Linked DNA regions of Homo sapiens: region 2 is linked to region 1. The links come from fine-mapping of genetic effects on gene expression. Tissue or cell type: thyroid. Region 1 holds a variant in brackets; the other region holds the start of a gene. All regions are shown on one strand. Distances are from middle to middle.

Region 1 (2,689 bases):
CCATGCTCTTCACGGTGGTGCTTTGCAACCTCTGTGTGCCCACTGCATGCCCACTTCATGCCCAGTGCTCTGTGCCCAGCTGCAGGACACTAAAGAGCTCGTAGGCAGAGATCTTGCCCTCAAGGCGAGTTCACCTGGGTTCAAATGAGATACACACAAAGCAGTGGCCAAGGGAACGAGGCGTGGAAACAACAGAGGGGAGGGAGATGGCCAGGGAGAGCATGGCCAGGGAGGCTCCTAAGAAAGTGCCCCTGAGCTTGGAGAATGTGGGAGGAGACAGAACGTGAGGCCCTGATGTGGGACGAGCCACCTGACCTCTCCCTGAGCCACAGCCCTCCAGCCCACCCAGTTTTCCTCTTTCAGAGCCCAGGATGAGTATCAGGGCCATCTACCTGGCTATCCGGGTAGTCAAGAACACCATCTCTGATACCCGGTCCAAGGTAACAGGGCAGAGACCTGGAAATGGGGGGCACTCAGGGGACCCTGCCAGGGAGGCAAAGGGAAGTCTGGGCTCTGGGAGGCAGAGGCTTTTGATGGAAAACCCGGCTTTCCATCGGGTCTCGACTGGGGCTGCAGAATGGTGAGGCCAGTGAAAGCTGAGGTTCCACTCTCGAGACCTCATTCTCTCCATGGATCTAGAGTTTTTGAGTGGTGTGTCTCAGGCACCACCTTGGACCCAACAGAGGCCGAGTAAATCCAGCTGCAGCTAGAGTCACTTGGCTGTCAAGGGTTTTGTGAGGTCTTTATCGCATGTGAAAAAAGCAACTAAGGGGTACTCCTCTACCCATCCTCAAAAGGCTGAAAACCACAGTCCCAGGCTCCATGGCAGCCACATCCACCTTGGAGTGGAGCTTGGTTCTGGCCATGGGCTGGGGAAGGGAGGTCCGGCATAGTGAGGGGTCTGCACAGCAGTTTTGAGGAACATCAGAGAGGGAATGGAGGAGAATGGGGGCTAGAGATTTAGGCAGAGCTGTCTTCAGTCCCTGGAGGCTGTGGAGGGAAGCGAGAAGAGGCTCGTTCTGCATCTCCTTCACATAGTGATTCTCATCAATGGAGCAAGCCCCAGGGGGTCCAGGATAACAGATGGGCTCCCCACGGCAAGGGCTGCTAGAATGGAGCAGCCGAGGTTGGAAGGGAGGGAGGGAGCTTTGTGTCTCTCCAAGGCTCAATTAGGCTCCCAGGTGGGCATGCTGCAGAGTGGGACCCCTGGATGAGGCAGGGGGAGGTGGACAGAGTGGGCAGTAATCAGGTAGTCCCTGAGGCCCCTTCTAGCCCAGAGCACCCCCAATTCCTAGCTCTCTATGTCACAGGATTGGGTGCCTTGGAGCCCACCCCAACCCCCAGCATGTCCACGGTCCTGTCCCCTCAGGTGAGGATGGCTATTCTCCACATCATTGGGCAGTTGGCTCTCTGTGGCTACCAGGAGAGAATCAAAGGCTGGGGCCTGAAGTACCTGTCTGTGCAGCTGACCTTATCCACCTACAAACTGGTGAGTGGCCCTGATACGCAGACCGCAGAGCAGCTGGACTTGGAAATGGTTTCCACAGTGCTGAGGGGAGAATGCCACTCAGC[G/A]TACCTGTGTTCAAACCTGCGTATCCATTCATGACAGGAGTTCATAGACACAGTGAACCTGCAGGTGACAATGTGTGGGGTCCTAGATATATGCACAGCTCTGAGCATTCTGTAGACTCAGTATCTGGGCATGGAGCCCCTGGGGAGTGAGGAGACCACACCTGAGACCACGACAAACCTCTGCTAGGCCACAGGTGGGAATCCCTTGGTTCTTTCTTCCAGACAAATCGCCGGGAGAAGTTTTATCAGAGGGACTTGGAGGAGAGGATGGTCCACAAAGTCACCATGGACACTGTGAAGATCATTACCTCTTCTGTCAGTGGGATGACCACCGTGAGTGGGCCCTGCCCCACCCGCACAGTGGGTCACCACGCCAGGCTGGGGGTGAACCACACATGCCCAGAATTCCACATCTTTGCTTCTTCCGTTCCTGCTGTCTGGAGTGTTGAGGGGCCTTCCTCTTCCAGTTGCCTGGAATTACTCAAAACCCAGTTCCAAAGCCAGGTCCTTGATGAGAACTTACTCTTCATCTCTGTACCCCTAGAGGCTGGGCAGTGCACGACCTCAGCATGGCTGGCAGTATCAGTCTGTATCATTTGAGCAAGTACCTGAAATGTGTCCATTACTTTAAGGCCCGTGTGTGTGTGTATGTGTGTGTGTGTGTGTGTGTGTGTGTCTGTGTGTAGACCAATGATTTTCATGGTTTAATTTTGTAAACATTCATTGAGTTCTAACTCTGTGAAAGACAGGACAGAGGAGTGTGCACTAGGAGGACTCAGTATGACGGGAAGGAGTGGAAGGAGTTCACAGACTATGGGAGAAACAAATGTGTCAACTTTTAATTGCAACAAAATGTGACGTAGCAATAAGAGGAAAAATGTACCATGAGAACATCAAGGAGGGAATGATTACTCACTGAGGCTGCAGGCTAGATGATCCCTGTCCAGCGACAGCTTTTTTTAATTGCAGAAATAATAATAATCATCATCATCATCATAGCTACAGTCCATGTGGCACCCACATATAGCAGGTATACTGTACTAGGTGTGCAACCTGTGCAATCTTGTTTAATTATCCCAGCAACTACCTGCATAGAGGGTAGTTATTATCCTGATTT
Region 2 (2,689 bases), 21 kb before region 1:
CCATCACCCTAGTCATTTCAGCCAATAGCGAGCCAATGGCCAGCCCTCTAGCTGTCTGAGATACATGGGTGAGACTCTAGTTGTGCTTGGCTGGACAGAGCACAGATCCACAGACCCACGCAGGTGACTCATACACTTGTGAACTATAATAATCGGTTGTTTTCAGTCATTAAGTTTTGAGGTGGTTTGTTACACAGCAATTGCTGACACATTCACTTCTGGCTCTAAATGTATCACTTTTCATGTGTTGAGTCTGAAGACCTTCAGAGGACAGAGATGTGTTCCACCTACCCTATATCCACTGCAGCATGGAAAGCCATGCTTAGCTGCACACAGTAGGCGTGCAGTCTGGGCCTGTGGAATGGACTTGGCAACCACATCACCTCAGTGATCTTTCAAACGGAAAAGAAGGCTCAGTGGGGAGTGGGAGGAGGTAGTGCAGAGGGGCAGTCCTGTGAAAGAAGGGGCATGGGATAGCTGCTTGTGTCTATTTCATGTTGATCAATGTATCTCCAAGTGCAGAACAAGGAATAACGCAGGAATTTTATGAGGAAGAAATGTTGGGCATGATAAGAAAGCTCATTTTCTAACCATCTGAATTCCATGAAGTAGAAAGAGGCTGGTCCTGAGAGTAATGAGCTCCCTCGTATTGGAGGTGTCCAAGCACAGGCTGAGGAACTCCCATTTGGCTGGATGGGCAAACTTGGAGTGGAAATTCCACTTAAGCAACCTTGGCCCTAGATGTCTCTGAGTTTTGTTCCTGTTGTCTTGCAGTGCATAGAAAGATTTCCCAAAGGCCAATATTTCATTGTTGTACCTATGATCTGGATCATCTCTCCTAGCTATAAATGACAGGGAAATCCTTTGGGCTCCACTTTTGGTTTAGGAAATCAGGGTGCCTCCTCTCCTACCTGTCTTTGATGTTCTTTATCTTGTAAGTATTGTGCTAGTGGAAATCCAATTTCTTATCCTGCAAGTCATCCAGTCCCCGGGAAGGAGGAGTGCTCTCCCCAGGGCCTCTCAGTCTGCCCCTCCTCTCCTCTCCAACTGTCCTGACCACACCTCCCCACCCAGGGCTCACATGACTGTGTTCCCCTGGGACTTGGTTGTAAGCCATCCCCACTTCTACCATCTCCCTTTCCCAAACAGGCCCCTGTACTTCAGCACACACATGTGAATAACAGAAATGTTGAATGACAACATGATGTGGAGTTTTCACCCCAGAGCCCTGTGCACTCTTCAAAGACCTGGGTTGATAGAGACTCAGGGAGGCAGTTGGATCTCAAAGTTCCGAGGGTCTGGGATCTAACGGTGATAGTTCTAGTGAAACCCTCCCACCCTTCCAGGAGACCCATTCCTATAAGAAATATGACTGAAGAGCCCAGCTGTCTCACTTTGATAACCAATTCTTCCATTTGCATTTCCATTGATGTGTATTGGGCCAAGAGCAGAGCTTTTTCTTGTGGTTAATATCTGTTTAATCCAGAAGAAGACCCTAAGGAAAGGTCAGTATTTAGGTCCCAGAGTAGCTCTTTAAAATCCTTTAAAGGAAAAGAGAGTATGGGATAGTAAAGGGCCATGGGATGGATCTTTGAGGATCAAGGAACTTGGGACAGGAGGAGAAAGGATCTGAGAGCCTTTCTTCCACCATCTCGACATCTATGTTGGTGTTTCTCAATTTTTAAGAAGCTGTGGATGTTGAGAGAACCCCTTAAAGGAGTTATGAGAGATACTGATATGAATTTCTCATTAGCCATTAATTATCAGTGTGTAGAAGAGAGGGCGAGAGGGCTCTATTAAACTAAGGATATTATCTATTGCTGTGTAACAAATTATCATAAACTCAGTGGCTTAAAAGAACATCCATTGATTATCTCACGGTTCCACTGGCCAGGAGTCTAGGCATGGCTTTCCTTGGTCCTTTGTTTAGGGTCTCAGAGACTGCAGTCCTTTCTGGAGTTCAGCTTCCTCTTCCAAGCTCATGTGCTTATTGGAGAATTCAGTTTCTTATGGTTGTAGGACTGAGGCCCTCAGTTCCTTGCTACGTGGCCCTCACCACAGGCAGTTTGCATCATGGCTGTTTACTTTTCAAGGCCAGTAGAATGTTTCTGTTCAATCTGATAAGAGGGAATCTCATGTGGCATAGTGTGATCATGGGAATGACATCCCACCATCTTTGCCATATGATGTAATCCACTCGAGAGAGGGTCACCCATCACCTTTGCCATATTCTGTTGATTAGAAGGAAGTCACAGGTTCCACCCACACACCCTCAAGGGGATGGCTTTATGGAAGGGTGTGGGTCGTTGGGGTCATCTTAAGGTGTGTGTCACACCCCGTATTTTACAAATTCTGTTGATCTCAAAAGAGCTTGAGGAAGAGATGACTGAAGCCATTACAGAAGCAGCAGTAGCCTCAAGTGAGGAGGTGTCAGAGGAAAGAGACGACCTGGGGCCTCTTGAATTACATGACAGTGGTAAGAATGTCATCCACATTTCTGCTTTCCTGCCCCATCTCAGACACTAACTCTTTGACTGCAGCCCCAGCCTAGGTCTCCCTTTCTCCATCTGCACAGTGGACATCATACCACACATGAAGCTGGAGCTGCGCAGGTGGAGGCAAGGCCAGGGACACAAGGGCACCTCCTGTCATGGTCATTTCCACACTGCACCTGGGTGGCGTTTGTTTT

Alleles and levels. Alleles are on the strand shown, and positions count from the first base shown. SD is a standard deviation of normalised expression in the study named.
As copies of G replace A in region 1, the expression in thyroid of the gene that starts at base 1,354 in region 2 goes down (large effect, 0.89 SD a copy in GTEx).

Evidence for each region. PIP is the estimated chance that this variant, and not a neighbour inherited with it, causes the effect.
Region 2: it holds the start of MROH2A, and the variant in region 1 is fine-mapped to the expression of MROH2A in thyroid (GTEx, PIP above 0.99).

The regions. Positions count from the first base shown.
Region 1 is chr2:233,798,411-233,801,099 of GRCh38, forward strand. MROH2A (maestro heat like repeat family member 2A) reads left to right here. Exons shown (of 42, transcript NM_001394639.1): 12 at 364-440; 13 at 1,370-1,489; 14 at 1,795-1,905. Among named protein-coding and RNA genes, the nearest start is that of MROH2A, 21 kb to the left of the region's middle. The variant G/A (reference allele first, on the strand shown) is at 1,573.
Region 2 is chr2:233,776,977-233,779,665 of GRCh38, forward strand. It overlaps MROH2A (maestro heat like repeat family member 2A), which reads left to right and starts at 1,354. Exons shown (of 42, transcript NM_001394639.1): 1 at 1,354-1,505; 2 at 2,369-2,476. The coding sequence starts at 2,383.